Linked DNA regions of Homo sapiens: region 1 is linked to region 2. Evidence: fine-mapped expression QTL. A gene starts in region 2. The other region holds a variant in brackets. All regions are shown on one strand. Distances are between the middles of the regions.

The links. PIP is the estimated chance that this variant, and not a neighbour inherited with it, causes the effect.
Region 1: its variant is fine-mapped to the expression of MAP2K5 in whole blood (INTERVAL, PIP 0.94).

What each region holds. Positions count from the first base shown.
Region 1 is chr15:67,802,911-67,811,474 of GRCh38, reverse strand. It overlaps MAP2K5 (mitogen-activated protein kinase kinase 5), which reads right to left. Exons shown (of 22, transcript NM_145160.3): 22 at 4,361-4,829. The coding sequence ends at 4,725. Among named protein-coding and RNA genes, the nearest start is that of SKOR1, 18 kb to the left of the region's middle. RefSeq lists enhancers at 5,968-6,828, 6,829-7,691. The variant G/A (reference allele first, on the strand shown) is at 4,370.
Region 2 is chr15:67,539,494-67,548,016 of GRCh38, reverse strand. MAP2K5 (mitogen-activated protein kinase kinase 5) reads right to left here and starts at 5,314. Exons shown (of 22, transcript NM_145160.3): 1 at 4,547-5,314. The coding sequence starts at 4,681. MAP2K5-DT (MAP2K5 divergent transcript) reads left to right here and starts at 5,387. Exons shown (of 1, transcript NR_186334.1): 1 at 5,387-6,949. RefSeq lists enhancers at 1-210, 6,172-6,221, 5,874-6,374, 8,408-8,497 and a silencer at 5,179-5,298.

The sequences.
Region 1 (8,564 bases), 260 kb before region 2:
TCCCATGTGGAAGCCGCTGTCCAGTCCCTTCTGAACCACCCTGTGGGGCCCCAGGGGCTGCCAGCCTGCAGACCCAGCATCATCCCGAGGCTTCACCTGGAGGTTCCACTGGCCTGAGTGTGCAGACACCTGGAAGCATATGCCTCCCCAAAGATGCAGGTCTGTTCAGGCAGGGCACCCGCAGCTTCCCTCAGTGAGGCTGTACCATCCATTTCACCTCACTGGCCTGACCAACCCCCTAACTGGGCTGGGCCTTGGGTAGGGGCTCTGGGTCACACTACTTTGGACCACAAGGTCCCCGCCACATCTGGAGAAGAGGGTTCCACCTCTCCTTCCTCTGCCCCAGTGGACCTGTTGGAACATCTCCAAAGCCCTGGGATTCTGTATCCTGCATTCCCCACATGTGAAAACCAAAGACAGAAGCAAGGACGATGGGCTGAGTGTGAGAGGGCCTCCTGGCCTTCAAGCCAGAGACCTAGAAGCAGAGGAGGCACCTGCCTGTCATTGTGAACTGGGGCCCCGTGAGGATCCTCCTGTCCTGGAAACACTTCCTTCTAGGCTCCCCTGAAGGTCTGAGAGGCCTGAGGCTGCCTCCAGTGAGGGTTTCGTCTCTCAGAAGCTCCAGTTAGAAAGTGAGTGGGCGATATTGAGGATTGGAGCAAGAGATTCGAGCAGGACAGTGACAGGCCCCAAGGGCCTCAGGTCTGAGGGCCCCATCTCTGCACCCTACCTTCCCTCCCTCCTACCGTCCCACACCACAGGCACCCTCCCTATGCAGGCCCTGGGCCAGGTGCTGGGATAGAGGTGAGTTAGCCTCATCCCTGCCCTCAAAGGGCTCACAGTCTATATCCAGAGAAGGAAATAAAGAAGCTGCCAGCTAGGCGTGGTGGCTCACGACTGTAATCCCAGCACTTTGGGAGGCTGAGGCAGGCAGATCACTTGAGGTCAGGTGTTCAAGACCAGCCTGACCAACATGGTGAAACCCCATCTCTACTAAAAATACACAAATTAGCCGGGCATGGTGGTGCATGCCTGTAATCCCAGCTACTCGGGAGGCTGAGGGAGAAGAATCGCTTGAACCTGGGAGGCAGAGGTTGTGAGCTGAGAGTGCACCATTGCACTCCAGCCTGGACAACAAGAGCGAAACTCTGTCTCAAAAAAAAAAAAAAAAAAAAAAAAAGGCAGCAAAGAGGAGGTGCTGTTTGAGAGGGGCCTGAAAGGAAGAATAGGAATTAGCCACATGGATGGGGTGAGGGTGGGCGGGGGTGGCTTTCCAGCAGGGAAAGAGCTCATGCTGCCTAGGCCAGTCTCAGGCACTGCAGTGTTCTAGGTCTTAGCCTTCCCGCGACCTCTGAGGGCAGGGGCAGCTTGGCCTCTGGCCCCCAACGGTGACTAGAGGAATCACTTCAACAGGCCAAAGAGGGACCTGCCTCCGGCCAGAGGGGTGTTAGCAGGAGAACCCCTCAGGGGTCACTCAGCTCCCCATCTTCTCGACTTCAAGGCAGAGGGGAATTTATAGTTGGGGGCTGCCCCAAAGTAGGGGCCCTTGACAGGGGGTCATGAGTGAGTGAGCTCCAGGGTCTCCACAAACCCTAGAGTTGTGAACAAAATTCTGTGCGTGCATGCATGTGGGTGATGTAATTTGGGGGCAAGGATGCTCACAGGATGAACCCAAATGGTGAGAACTCTGCTCTGGGACATCAGGACTGGGAGCAGCTCCAGGACACCGTGAGGTCAACCCCTACATTGACAGATGAGGAAACAGACTCAGACAGGAGACGTGCTTTGTTCAAGATCACCCTGAAAGTTGGTCTCCAGGCCAAAGCATGCGTCTGGAGCAGTGTTTCTCAGTGCTGTTGTGGGGCGCTCTGCACCTGTATCCCTGGGGAGCTGGTCAAAGAGATCCTTGGCCCGTTCCCAAAGGTACTAACATTATCTTGGCAAACCAGAGTTTGGGAGCCTCTGTGCTAGAGGACAGGGCATGTGTCTGTGTGTACATATGTGCACATGTGTGCTGTGTGTGTGGAGTTGACTATCAGAGCTGTGGCTAAGAGCAGGGCTCTGGGTCCCAAACAGTGCTTTGCTACTTGTTGGGTGACCTTGGGTAAGTCATCTGGCCTCTCTGTGTTTCAGTTTCTTCATCTGTAAAACGGGCAGAATAATCGTATCACCATCTACCTCCTGGGATCATGGTGGGGATTAAACGAATTGATACAGTGAGCCCTAAGCACACTGCCCAGCAAGGTACCTGCTCACTTTTCCTACCGCCCTTGACTTGGGATTTGGGGCTGACAGGTTTGCTGGATGAATCTTCTCAAAATAAGGATACGCTTTAGTCTGGGTGGTGGCTGATTCACATTCCAAGGTAGTCAGCCCCGTGTGGGAGCCCCTAAGCTTTCCCCACTCTCTGAGCGCCTCTTCCTGAGAAAGTCCATCATGTGCACTGCCCGCAGTTCTCCCTGCCCTGAGCACTGGGCCAGGGTCTTCCTGGCCGGGGTCCCATCCAATTCTGTGACCATCTAACCCCAGGGAAATGGCAGGTGCTCAGAGAAAGCTGGGAGCCTGTGCCTTGAAAAGCATTACTAAAAAGATGATGAGCCGACTCTGCCCTGGGAAGCACATGATGCCTCACATAGGGTGCCCTTCCATGGGGCACTGGACTGCACATGGGCTGGGAGTCACAGCTCCACAATTTTGGCCATTTGACCCACACACATTTATTGTGCAGAGCTGAGGCCTTGTTCTTTGTACTGGGGATACAGTGTGAAAAAGACTAGAATTTCTGCCCTTGTGGAGACCCCATTCTAATGAAGGGCAGAAGAGGAAGGAGACAGAAGAGAAAATAAGTAAAATTAGTGATGTATCACACAGTTCTGAATGCAGTAGAGGAAAATGGTGCAAGCAATGGGCACAGGCGGCCCCAGGGCAGGTGCGGGAGGGGTGCGATTTTAGAGTGGTTAAGTAGGTTTCACTGAGATGCCATTTGAGCTGAGACCTGAAGGGTATAGAGGTGAGCCATGTGGATGCATGAGGGAAGCATGCTCCAGGTACCAAATGCAAAGGCCTACATTAGCTGGCATAATACTAGCTGCTAGTAACATATAAAACCCCATCAAAATAATTGATCCCTAGCTCACTATTTTTATTTATTTTTGAGACAGGGTCTCACTGTCATTCAGGCTGGAGTGCGGTGGTGCCATCACGGCTCATTTAGCCTCAACCTCCCGAGCTCAAGAGATCCTCCCACCTCAGCCTCTCAAGTAGCTGGGACCACAGGCATGCACCACCACACCCTGCTAATTTTTTAAGTTTTGTTAGAGACAGGGTCTCACTATGTTGGCTAAGGCTGGTCTTGAACTCGGGCTGAAGCAATCCTCCCCCCTCGACCTCCCAAAGTGTTGGGGTTACAGGCGAGAGCCATTGTGCCTGGCTCCAAACTCACCCTTTATAATAGCACCAATCCCACCCATGAGATGGAAGCCCAGCTGGGCAGTGGCTCCCTAGCAACGCGGTACCCTGTGGAGGGAGTGTGAACCTTCCATGGCTAGACGTCTCTGCTGTGACCCTGGGTGGTTATGTGCCCGGATGTTCAAGGAGCAGCAAGAAGACCAACTGGCTGGAGTCAAGAGAGAATTTTGGGTGATGGAACCAATATTCTTTGAAGGCAAAGACAGCAGGACTGGATGTGGGTGTGAAAAGGGAGTCAAAGCCATGTCCTGGCATTTTAGGGAGTGCCAAATGGCTTGGGCACTGGGAGGATGGAGATGCCATTTACTGACACAGGAAAGCAGTAGGAGGAGGTCTGGGTGGGGTGGGGGATTAGGAATTTGCTTCTGGACGTGTTGAGATGCTATTCAGACCTTCAAGTGGAATCCTGAGCCCCTTGGAGCCTCAGCTCCTCACCTGCAAAATGGGGGTAGCCAGGCTTACCTGGCATGTGGCTGAGGGGATTTCCTGAGAGGTGAGAGGTGGCAGGTGTGGGGTCAAGGGCAGTGAGGAGCAGGGGTGGGGCTGGGGTGGAGAAGGGCCTCTCAGAACAGCCCACTCCCTCCTCAGCCACGCAGGTCAGGTGGATGTGTCTGGCAGTCCAGTAAGGAGCTCATGGCGGGGGCCTGAGATCCGGGCCTACTCCTTGCCATGGGACCCATCCCAATGCCTCCGTGCTTCTGTTTCTCATCTGACAGTGGAGCTGGGCTGTGGGCCTCAGCACAACTGCGAGGAGCTAGCAGGAGGCTTGCAGGTGCCTGGGCAGGCAGCAGGCACTGTCACACACATCCCTGCTGAAGTGGAGATCCCACCTGCCCCCAGCCCTGGGGGGGGTCACAGACCCCCTGGACCACACAACTCTTATGGCAGAGGCTGTCACAAA[G/A]CATTAATACTTTTATTCCCATCAGTGATGCTGACGGGCCTGACCCTTTATAGAGAAAAACATTAGGAAAACAGAAGTGGGCAGGGACCCTGGGAGCCTCCATTCTCAATGCCCCACCCTTTACCTCTCTGCCAGTGTCAGCGCCTTCAAACCAGAAGGTATGGGGATGGCCTGGTGGGGTGGGCCACACATGGGGCTCCCCAGGCAAGGCCACCTGCTGACAGAGGTGAAGGCGAGGGCAGGGAAGCCAGGGCCCAGCAAAGCTCTTCTGGCGCAGGCAGCATACGGAGAAGGGCGACGGGTGGGTTGTTCTCCTTGGTTACTGGTCCTGGGCTTTCAGTGCCCTGCGGCAGCCTCACGGGGGCCCCTGCTGGCTCCGCCTCTCCTCCAGCGCCCGGCACACCCACATGGACACCACGGCGGCATTTCCATCATTGAACTGCACGATGAACGGGTGGCCCTGCGGGGAAGAGGAGGAGGCTGTGACAGGCAGTCCTCGGACTCCCGCGCTCATTGTACTTTCCAGGGCCTGCCCTCAGCCTGGATCTGATCTCTTTCCCCAGTAACCCTGTGAGGTAACGAGGGAGGCTATCAGCTCCATTTCACGGCCTAGATAATTGAGGCCCAGGGACGAGCAGTGACATACTGGTAGTCAGCACCAAGCGTGTGGAGTGCTGGCTGGCACATCTCAGACTCTGCCACCTCTTCCTGAGGCTCGCACTAGCCTGGAAGGTGCTTAAGGGCGAGGGCCTGTCTTCGCTGCACACTCTGCCTGGCCCTTCCTCTGCCCGGCATCACTCGCACGGCCAGTCAGCCGAGGCCTGGCACTGTGTTGCCAGCTTTCCGGTTCAGTTGGTGCCCAGAGACCAAAGAATCATCTCGTCAGAGGCTATGTCAATCCCTTTTAGCTTTCTCCTTTGTCTACAGCTCTCCTATAAAAAGAAGTCACCACCTGCAATTGGAGGGAAGGCAAACATGTCAGGGGAAGTGGGGAGGGGGAGGAATGTGCTGGGCTGTGCACAGGATCTCTGGGTTCCTGGTGAGAAGTTCCATTGGGGGCTGGACTCTGGAGGGGCCGGCCCTGTTGCCCTGTGGCCTGCCTCTGGTTCTAACCCACTTATCACACAGGCAGACCAGATTCTATTTAGCCAGTTCTCTTCTCTGCTGTCCTGAAGCACCAAGATTTACATCCACAATCTTAGGGCCTCCTGGGAATTCCCAGGGAAGGTCAGAAAAAAGCAGGGACAACCCCAGGGTTACCAGGCCACAGTCAGAGGTGAAAGGAAAAGTGAAAAGCCTTCTTTTTCTTCCTCTTCACCAAGTGGCTTCTTGCCCAGGAACTTACACCAAGTGGCTTCCTCTCCTACCCAAAACTGTGCAGCTTGCATGGTGAGACTCGGGGAGCCATAGCGAGGACAGAGAATGGGGGAGATGAGGGCGCCATGTGCCTGCCCCCAGCTCTTCTCCCTCCCTGTCCAGCGGCCGCTTCCTCGCTCCCCCCAGCTCTCTCCTCCCTCCAGCTTCCTCAGCCCCTCTTGGGCCTGTCCTCCACCTGCACAGGCTGGGCTTTCAGGGTTGCTTTCCCAGCACACCCCAGCCTTGACTGCAGCCCTAGAGAGGCTGCTTAAAGAGCCGCATGGCCTCGCCACGAGCTCATCACAAAGCCAGGAGGGATGTGGACCCTGGCTGTCCCAACCTCAGCGCCTGCAGGGGCTGTCAAGGACCAGGCCTGGGTAGAGCAGGGGACGGCATGGCCCCTCTGGACCACAGGTCAGAACTGTGGGGGACAGGAGAATGCTCAGGCCGCCTCATCCTAGGCTGATGCAGTGCCCGCCCCCAACCTTCTCATTCGAGGTTGGGAAACCTGCCCTGGGGACACCCTGCGTGGGTCTATCTCAGAGGCACACAGAGCACTGTCAGAGCTGCGAGGAGGAGGAGGAAACTCGGCTTCGAAGATGCCAAGGCACTCAACCCCGGGCAGGGACCCGCTGAGACTGGGGTGGAGCTAGGCCTGGAGCCCAGCTGGGTACTTCCCATAATCTGCTCATAGCACTCTGGGAGGCTCCTGACACACCTGCAGGACCCCTAAGGGCACAGGGGCCATGGAGGCCAGGCTGGGTGTGGCCCTGTGGATGGCAGAGGTTTGGTCTGGGGCCTGAGCAGGAGAGGCCCAGGAAGGACTGGATTTTGGCTTCCAAGTGTTCTCCTCCCCATATATATGCCCACCCCACGGCTGCTTTCCCAAATCGCTGCCTAGACAGAGGAAATCCTTCCCAAAGTCCAAGCGTGCACACTTCCTCTCAGGAGGCTCAGGAGGGGCGACCTCGTGCCCTTCTAAAGAACAAAGGGAGAAGCTGTGCTCACGAGTGACGGGCCCCTCCCCCCACGCCCGGGGTAACACAGTGTCACTTTCCCAGAATGCCGGGTGACTTTGGGGCCCATATGCTCCATCTCTGTTATCATCTGTTCTGGAACAAGCAGAGCGGAACTGCAGGAGGGAGCGTAGAGGCGTTCCTCCACATTCCAGAAGGGCGGATGGCCGCACTGCAGGGAGGCAGTTTGCCCAAGTGCCCCGGTAGGCGAGGGGAGAGGGCTGCTCAGCTGCAGCCATACTCAGCTCCGGTGGAGATGCCGGCCTCTCCTGCCCTCCTCAGCTGGGAGGTGACCTCGTCTCCTGCTGCTGCTGAGGCATGTTGTATCCCCGATACTTTACCCCACCTGCAAGGGAAGCGACCTGGACCCACTGCCTTTGTCCCAAGCCACTGTTGATTGGTTTAGGGTGGTTGCCTGACAGGGAGAATCACAGGGGACAGACATGGAGGGGACCCAGCGTCCTAGGCTGTGCACTGTGGACTTGGTAGCTGCTGGCAGCTGTTCACCACCATTTGACTGGACACAACAGAGAAAGCCAGTGTGTAGGACCCGAGAGCAGGAGGTGCTGTCCAGAGGCAGGCAGGCGGGGGGTCGTGACGGCACTGGAGACCCTGGGGCCATTACACCCAGAGCCTGGCAGCGTCTCTGCCTGCAGGGTCCACACGGTCACAGGATCCTGTGAGGCACCTCACAGGCTGGGGCTGGTTTCTGTTATTTGCAGCCAAAGAAGTGTTAACTCACACAGGTGGGCACAATCACCTCCACTTTACTGATGGAGGCTGCAGGGTCACAGCTGACCTGCCTGAGCTCCCAGACATGGGACTGAACCACAAGTCTGTAACCCAAACCCACTGCCCTGGGCTCTTCCTGGATAGAGGAGGGAGAATCAATATTCAGATTGCAATTCCCCCTCATCTTGTTTCTACCTTGGCGACTCAGGCCTGCCTAGCCAGAGGTGCAACCAGGGCTGCAGGCTGTAAGCCTAGACCATCCCAGGTCTTGACCTCTATCAGCACTGTCCCCTGGACACACTGGGAGAGTCACTGACTCCCCCTCCTCCCATCAGCCCTGCATGGGATTCAGGGAAAATACACCATGACCCCCATGTTAGAGGAGAGGACACTGAGGCCCAGGGAGGGAAGACAGGGGTTAGGAGCTGGCACTGAGCTCATGTCTCCTGGTTTCTATTCTGGAGTATTCTCGGGGCTGGCCTGGCTCCCCTGGGACCCTGGCAGGTGTGGCTCTCTCCTTCCTCCTAGACTGTAACTGACGCCCTTAACCCTGTGACATGCACAATGCAGGCATTCCTCATGAGTTTAGCAAGCAAACAAAATCTGATGGAGAATTTGGGAGGAAGCACAAAACTCACTTGGCCACCCAGAGGTGCCCGAGTTCCACACAGCCAGATGCCCTAGGCATCTTGGCAAGGCCAGACTCTTAAAGATGGATGGAGATAGCACACTGAATAATACCAAGTCCAGCTGGGAGGTGACCCCATCTCCTTCGTATTACTGATGAGGCACATTGTATCCGTGATGCTTTACACCACTCTGCAAGGGACTGACTTGGACAAGGAGTGCTGTGTGCTAGGCATTTGCCAAAGGTTTGTCCTGATGTGCCCACTGGCTCCCATGCTCACTGTGGCCCACACACAGCTATGCATCTCCATTGTGCTGAAGAGGAAACTGACACTCAGTGTGCAGAACTTGCCCAAGGGCAACCAACCAGGCAGTTGGGCTAGAACCAGAACATGGGTCTCCGACTCCAAACGCCTTGCTCTCCTGTGCCTGCAATCAGACAGCCAACCTCGAGGCTCCTTGCA
Region 2 (8,523 bases):
AGCAAACTTGAGTGAGAGAATCATGTGAACACAACCAACCATTTTGTTCTTTAAAGCAAATAAAGTGGGGCAATCATAATGACAAAGAGGTAAGAAGTTTAAACATCAGTAATATCTACTAGTCATTTTAAAGCAGGGTACATTTGATGATTTTATATACATTTTCCAGCTAAAGTGACTTATTTCCAAGCGGCCTTCTTCTGCTCTTGACAATATAACATGTACCTAACTAACCTAAAGAAGGTTTCAAAAGAAAACCGGGATGGGCGCAGTGGCTCACACCTATAATCCCAGCACTTTGGGGGGCCGAAGTGGGTGGATCACTTGAGGTCAGGAGTTCAAGACCAGCCTGGCCAACATGGTGAAACCCTGTCTCTACTAAAAATACAACAAAATTAGCTGGATGTGTGGTGTGTATCTGTAATCCCAGCTGCTCAGGAGGCTAAAGCAGGAGAATCACCTGAACCTGGGAGGCAGAGGTTGCAGTGAGCCGAGATCACGCCACTGCATTCCAGCCTGGGCAACAAAGCGAGACTCTGTCTCAAAAAAAAAAAAAAAAAAGAAAAAAGAAAACCGAAGTTTACATATTTTGATGATGACCATTTTTTGATACTTTTCTTCTTCCTTTCAATAAATCAGACAAATATCTGACAGATCCAAAACATCATTGAGCATCTACAACATGCCACGAGCATAAAGATCACAAAGCTGTAGGCTACAGGACAATAAAACTTGATCCTTGACTTTAGGAAGATTATAAACTGGTTACAGAGATAAAGACAAACCTGAAAGACTAGTAATATAAAACACTTAAGAGTATAAGCACCAAACAAAAGACATAAACAGCCAATAGTATTTGGTAACTCAGGAGAAAGGAAAAAATCACAGACTCAGTTTAGACAGAAATCTGTGTGTGTGTGTGTGTGTGTGTGTGTGTGTTTTCTTCTTTTTTGAGATAGGGTCTCGCTCTGTGACCCAAGCTAGAGTGCAGTGGTGCAATCACAGCTCCCTATAGCCTCGACCTCTAGGTTCAAGAGATTCTCCCACCTCAGCCTCCCTAATAGCTGGGACCACAGGTGAGTGTCACCAAGCCCCCACTAATTTTTGCATTTTTTGTAGAGATGGGGTTTTGCCATGTTGCCCAGGCTGGTCTCGAACTCCTGAGTTTAAGCGATCTACCCACCTCGGCCTCCCAAAGTGTTGGCATTACAGGCCTAAGCCACCACTCCTGGCCCAGAAGTCTTATAGATGAGGGGAAATCTGAGCTTGGAGACCACAGAATACAAAAAGAAGAGGGGAGAGGGTTGGGCATTCTCTCTCATCACACACTAACCAGACCTCTTGTATAGTTTTCCCAAAACTAGGAACTCAGTCTCCAGGGAAAAAGAGAAACACAGAAAGCTGCAAAACAGAAGACCCAAATGTCTCTACCTTTGAGGGTCAGGTCAGCCTCCATAGTTCAGCCAGTCCCTGATGATTCAGACAAAAGACAAGGCCCAGAGAGACCGACTGACTTGCCCAGGGTCTCCCAGCTATTTGATGCACAGTGACTGGAGCCCTCAACTGCTGACTTCAGGTCCGAGACACTCAGTTATGGCTGACTCGGTGACTACAACCTGCTTCTGGCATCTGTGTCAGGTTCTGCCAAAAATTAGCTGGGTGGCTTTAGCAAGGTATTTTCCCCCTGTGGGGTTCATGCCTCTTCATTCGAAATGAGTCTGAATTAGATGAGGGGATTCTTCCAGGTTCCACGTGACTTTAAAGTTTAAGGTTCCAAGCCAGAGATGCTGACGTGTCTCTTGGTTCTTGCCTTTTCTTGATGAAGAGATGAAGTAAACCTGGAGAACAGATCACAGGAGTCTGCCATGATCTGGGCTTGAACATTTGCTAAAATGGAGCACTAGGAGATAGCACTGAACACCCACTGCCACAGGTCCTTCGTCAGGCCTTTCTGACAAAACATGCTCCACCTGGGCTTACCTAGCCAAAAGTGTGCAGACACCTGGCATGCTGAGCTCTAGTGGTGGGGCCACTCGTGTTTCCTGTTAAGCCAGTCAGCCTTGAGCCAGGTACAACTTAGAGATGCTCAAGAAACAGAAGACCCAAGTCCAATCCCTTATAATAACAATCCCATCAATAATAACAACACTAATGGAGCGCTTACTATGTGCTAAGTTGTTCTGAGTGCTTTACATGTATCAACTCAAGGAGTCCTCAGAACTCTAGGAGGTAGGCATTACTTTCACCCCTCCCCAACTTTTTTTTCACAAATAAAGAAACTGAGATACAGAAGATACTTGCCCCAGTAGTACAACTTGCAAGTTAAACAACCTGGCTCCAGAGTTTGTGGTCTTAAACACTGGGCTATTCTTGAAATAATCACATAACCAAATAATATAATCACATAATAATCAACCTTCCATTGTTTTAAATGAGTAAGAGAAAACCCATCTTTCTCATCACAGTCACAATCTCACATAATCTTTCCAAGTCTTTGAGGAAGGTACAAGTTTCCCTGTTTTACAAATAAGGAAACTAAGGCTCAGAGAGGTAGACTGACTTGCCTAGTCAGTGGGACAGCTTGCAATTAAACCCAAATTCCTTGACTCTAAACCTAGTGTTCTGTCCACAGAACCATAATTGCATGCATCCTCTTTTAAGCTCCCTTCTTAAACAAGTATTTTGGGGTCCTATGAAGAAACAAAAACAAACATATCTATCTCCTCCAGAAGTTTACCATCTAGTGGAGGAGACAAAGAATCATGATCAAACATGTGCTTTGCTGGGGGACCCACACAAAGCTGTGACGACACAGAGGTGGGGCACATAACCAAGAATGACACAGAGAAAAAGCACAACTTGGCTTGGAAGGACAGGTGGGAATTGACCGGTGAAGAGCAGAGTGCAGACAGCCTGGACACCTGGGAGAAATGAAAATCAACCTATGTAAGTGAGGCACAGAAGTTTATGGGGCCGTGAAGAGAGATGACACAGGTGCCAGGCAGACAGGGGCCAATCCAGATGTGCCCAGAGGACCACATGAAGGAGCCTGGGCCTTATCATGAGGGGAAATCTGTATGTGCATGACTGTGTGGAGAACTCCGGATACAAAGAGAAGGATGGCATTTGATGCACAATATGGAAAGCTCCTGGTCAAGGCACCCAAAAATCTGCATGGCCTGGGCAGTCAGTAACATCTAGAACTCAAAATGAAGTTATAGAAATCAAATTTTGATTAAGTTACCCAAGACAATGAAAAATCACATCACAAATCTTCCTCTTCCCAAGATCCTGCCACCTTGCCCACTCTTAACTTGCAGGTAGTGATGTGCTTTTCGGAATGTCCGCTTCTGTCTTCCATGCCTCAGTTATTCTGCATGTAGAATGGGCACAAGGCACCCTGTCTATCTCAAATGAATACCAGAAAGATTAGAAGCGGCTGCAACATGTAGGGAAAGAAACCTACTAAGTCAATGAAACAAAATTTTAGTTCTGGTACTGACTCTCCCACTCAGGAGCTCACAGCTTTGGAAAAGCCATTTCACCTCACTGCTCCTCAGTAACTATCTGCAAAAAAGAAACATCAGCTGAACAGGCCACCTACAGTGTTACACTCTGCTCTAAAATTCCATCATTTTATTTGAAATATATTCTGAAAAATCTGAATGTAAAATATCACCAATTCTAAGATGCACATTTTCCCTTACTTTTACCGTCTCTGAAACTGGACTCATTTTAATAACGGATGATGTGTCATACTGTCATGGTTAGCATTTTTTTCTAAGTAAAATGTCTTACATTCAATGATGCTTTAAGTTTGCTCAGGCTGGGCACAGTAACTCACACCTGTAATCTCAGCACTTTGGGAAGGCCGAGGCAAGCAAATCGCAGGAGTTCAAGACCAGCCTGGGCAACATGGCAATACCTCGTCTCTACAAGATACAAAAATTATCCAGGTGTGATGGCATGTGCCAGCTACTTGGGAGGCTGAGGTAGGAGAATCGCTTGAGCCCAGGAGGCAGAGGCTGCAGTGAGCCGAGATCGTGCCACAGCACTGCAGCCTGAGCGACAGAGTGAGGCCCTGTCTCAAAATAAATTAATGAAACAGTGTGCTCAAACATGGTAAGTTAAAGTTGTCCTTTTTCCCTTTCTCAGCTGGTCACCAAGTTCAGAGAACTCAGTAGAAAAACAAGGCTGGAATCTGTCCAAGGACATTCCCCGAAACACTTGGGGGGAAAAAACCTCTCTTCTAGATTCAGCAGTTTGCATTTGCGTGGTTGTGTCTATATGTGTGTCCCAGCCCGGGCCATGAGCTCTCTGAGGGCAGGGGTTCAGTCAGATTGATCTATCTCCCCAGGGTCCTAGACATTTGCCAGGTTTTAGTGGTTGCAATTTATCAATGCTGTGCCTGAAGCAATAAAACTGCCTCCACAGGAAGCCAGCAGTAGCCATTGCCACTGGCTCAGGTCACCAGTGGTCAAGGTGCTGACTACTCAAGTCCCTGAGTCCCCCTTGCTGGCATCCGGACACTGAGATTACCACTCACCAGCACATCCCTGAAGAGTAACTGCGGCCCGGAGTGCACTGTCCAGTCCACCGCGCCACTATTTGGGATCTTGATGCGAATTACCAGCACCTGGTTCTCCATGGCAGGAAAGGGGCCAAGGGCTAGCCACAGCATTACAGGTTAAAGAGGCTCACATCCTGGGGTATGGGAAACCCACTGGCCGCTGGTTAGGAGGGGGCTCCAAGAGGTGACAAGGGGAGTGACGGGCAGAGGACAGAGGGTGAAAACAAGGGAATGGAGGATGAGGGGGAGGGAAGAGGGGAGGGGTGATCAGGAACGCACCCGCAGGCACCGAGCCTGCCCAGGCTGTCGGGGGTCTGAGGTGTCTCCCGGGGAGGGTGCACCGGGAAGCGGGCAAAGGCCCGCAGGAACTAGCGGAGGTCGGAAGGTTCTGGAGTTGAGCGAACGCTATGGTGAAGGTCTCTGCCGCCGTGTGGGTATGAGGAGGCAGCAGGGCAAGGACTCGGTTTGGGGGAGATACAGCGGCAGGTGTCCACCGCTCGTCAGTGGACTAGGAGAGGGTCCTCGACTGGAGGGGACTCAGTCCGGGGCTATTAAGAAAGAGCCCCAGGGCCGCCACACCACGGAGAGTCCCCGCGGGAGGTTCAAGGGGCGAGTCTTCTGCCCCACCCGGAGACACAGGGCGCGGCGCGCGCAGGCTGAGCTCCGGCCACCCGAGGCCGCGCGGACTGGCGGCGGCTGCGGCGGCGGCGACGGCGGTAGCGGCGAGAGGAGGAGGAGGAAGGCGGCGGCGACACTGTTACTCCGGAACCAAAACGCGCGGCGCCGGAACCCCGGGAGCCGACGAGCGGGACCCGCCTCCCGCGGCGCCATGTTGGAAAAGGGCAGCAGCTCCCGGGAGGATGCGCCCCCGGCGTGGGAAGCCGAGGAACCGGCGCGCGGCGCGCGGCGCGTGGCGCGTGGCGAGTCGGGGAGAGACTGGTCTTGCTCGCTCAGGAGACCCTCATCGCCCACAGAGCGCCCGCGGCGACCCGGTCACGGCCCTTCCATTTCCTGACCCTGCTTAATGACAGCGAGGTGAAAACATCTACCAAACGAAGGGTAAAAGGCTGGAGTCCGCCAAAAGCCAATTTAAGGCTTAACATTGCAGACCGTTTGTCTTTACAAAAGCTTCAAAGACGGGGCTGCAGCTCCCGGTTATCCCCACTTTGTCAAGCCATGAATCTGAATGTTCGTGGGGTTGTGTGCATCGAATCAGCAAGAGCAAGGCAAGAATTCAAGAAATAGTTCTTTTTTATCCCCCCTTCCAAGTCACAGGTTCAGAGGATCATCATCTTTCTCCCACATTAGCAAAACATATTTGCATTTTTCAGTGAAGTTCTTTACCGCACGAGTGCCCTAAAATAGCAAACAGTTCCCTGTTCAAAAGCAATAGTAAAGAAATTCGCCGAAGAGTTTAATTGCCTGGGGACAGCTGCAGTAGTCGCATCATCGTCTCTTATTAAACTGTTGCAGAAATATTCGGTCTAGTCCATGTATTTTCAACTAAATAGCACTGCTTACGCAGTTGGTGATATGGTGATATCACGGAAGTAGCAATAAACCTTGGTTATCTTTTTTTTTTTTTTTTTTGAGACGGAGTCTCGCTCCGTCGCCCAGGCTGGAGTGCAACGGCGCGACCTCTACTCACCACAACCTCAGCCTCCCGGATTCAAGCGATTCTCCTGCCTCAGCACTACCACCCCCACCAGCCCCCAACCCCTGCCGAGTAACTGGGACTACAGGCGTGCGCCATCCGTGCCCGCTCATTTTTGTATTTTCAGTAGAGACTGGGTTTCACTATGTTGGCCAGGCTGGTCTCAAACTCCTGACCTCGTGATCCGCCCACCTCAGCCTCCCAAAGTGCTGGGGGGATTACAGGTGTGAGCCACCGCGCCCGGCCAACCTTGGTTATCTTCAAATGCCTTGTTACCTCAGATTTTAAAGTGCATAAGGTTGTAGAACGATGGTGCCTCTACAGAAGTTTCTTTACAAATTGTAATGTGTAGGTTCGTCCTTTATTTCTTTCTTATGAAGGTGCACGAATTGGCTTTACTTTCTGGGGTTGAATTTTGTATAAACTCGGTTGAGGAGGCTTGTCAGTTTCCCTTCTAACAGTAAGGTGCTTGATTAATGTGAGAGAAAAAAATTAATGTTGGTCATTTTCAGTTACAATACCAAAATTTTTTCTGCATACTTTACTCTGAGTTACTTTTATATTTAATTTGAAAGGCCATTGTAGGAGATAAATTATCACATTTTAAGTTACTGTAAATCAATAGCTTAGGTAGAAATTCATTTAGTCAGATCCTTCAGATATTCTAGGAATTTCCCCTTTTCACCTGCACTTCACTTCTGTGAAAAATAAACCGTTCATCAAAAGTCCTCATGTACTTTTATTAAAAGTTCATTTCCTATTATTTTAGAAAATAGACCACGAAACTAGAGATTTTCTATGAACCTGTGATTTGTTAAAATGTCTCTTTTATTCGAAGTACCGTGGGGAAAACCAACTCAATTTGCCAAATTTGCATACATATTCTGAAGCTTTTCTTACACTAATGGCAAACTCATATTTCTGTTCCAATATTTGCAGAGCCAATATAATTACACGTCAGCTCTTCATAGCCTTTATGTAGTAAGAAATCTTAACTTTGATGATTTGAGCAAGGATTTTTCCAGAAAGTTATAACTCTCATTGCGAGAAGCATCATAATCACTGATAATACATTCCACTTGATATCATAAATGACAAAATATAACTTTCTGATCTTTACCAAATTGAATACTGTCTAAATTTAAGGAATATTTAGTATTTAACATCGAAGTTGCATGTGATCTTAAGAAGTTTGCATTTAGTACTTTTTTTCATTTTATTTTATTTTATTTATTTATTTTGAGACGGAGTCTTACTCTGTCACCCAGACTGTAGTGCACTGGCGCAGTCTCGGCTCATTGCAACCTCCACCTCCCAGGTTCAAGCGATTCTCCTGCCTCAGCCTCCCAAGTAACTAGGACTATAGGTATGTGCCACCACGCCCAGCTAATTGTTGTACTTTTAGTAGAGACGAGGTTTCACCATGTTGGCCAGGCTGGTCTGGAACTCCTGACCTCAAGTGATCCACCCGTCTCGGCCTCCCAAAGTGCTAGGAATACAGGCGTGAGACAGCGCGCCAGGCCTTTTTTCTTGTTAAATGATACAAGTCAGAATAGTCACTCAGGTACTGGCTGAGATAGTTTACTAGCCATTAAGCAAACTTACTGTAAAAAAAAAACTGTGCTTACTTGTAGTGTTCCTACTTGAGGGATTTACTTTTCACTAAGTGTAATAGAAAATCCCTCCCCTCATGAAGTTATATTCTGATGGGGAACACAGACAAATGAGTAAAATATATGTTAGATAGTAGTAAATGCTAACAGAAAAATGAAATCAGAAGGGAAAATGGTAAAACAGTAAGTGCACCAGTGTGATAACACTAAGGAATATGAAAACTGGCCTATATTGGCTTCAGTTAACTGGCAAATTTAACTGAAAATAGACACATTACTGAAAAGTTAGATGTCTAGTGATTTTTTTCCTTGTGATAAAATACACATAAAATTTACCATTGTACTCATTTTGAAGTGTGCAGATCAGTAGTGTTACATACATTCATTCATCCTGTTGTACAGCCAATCTCCAGATTTTCATCTTGCAAAACTGAAACTCTATATTCATTAAACAACTGCCCACTTCCCCTTCCCTCCAGCCCCTGGCAACCACCAATCAACTTTCTATTTCTATGAATTTGACTACTCTAGATACCTCATATAAATAGAATCATCCAGTATCTGCCTTTTTGTGACTGGCTTATTTCACTTGGTATAATGCCTTCAGGGTCCATCATGTTGTAACATGTGTCAGCATTTCCTTACTTTTTTTTTTTTTTTTAAGATGTACTCTTGCTGTGTCATCA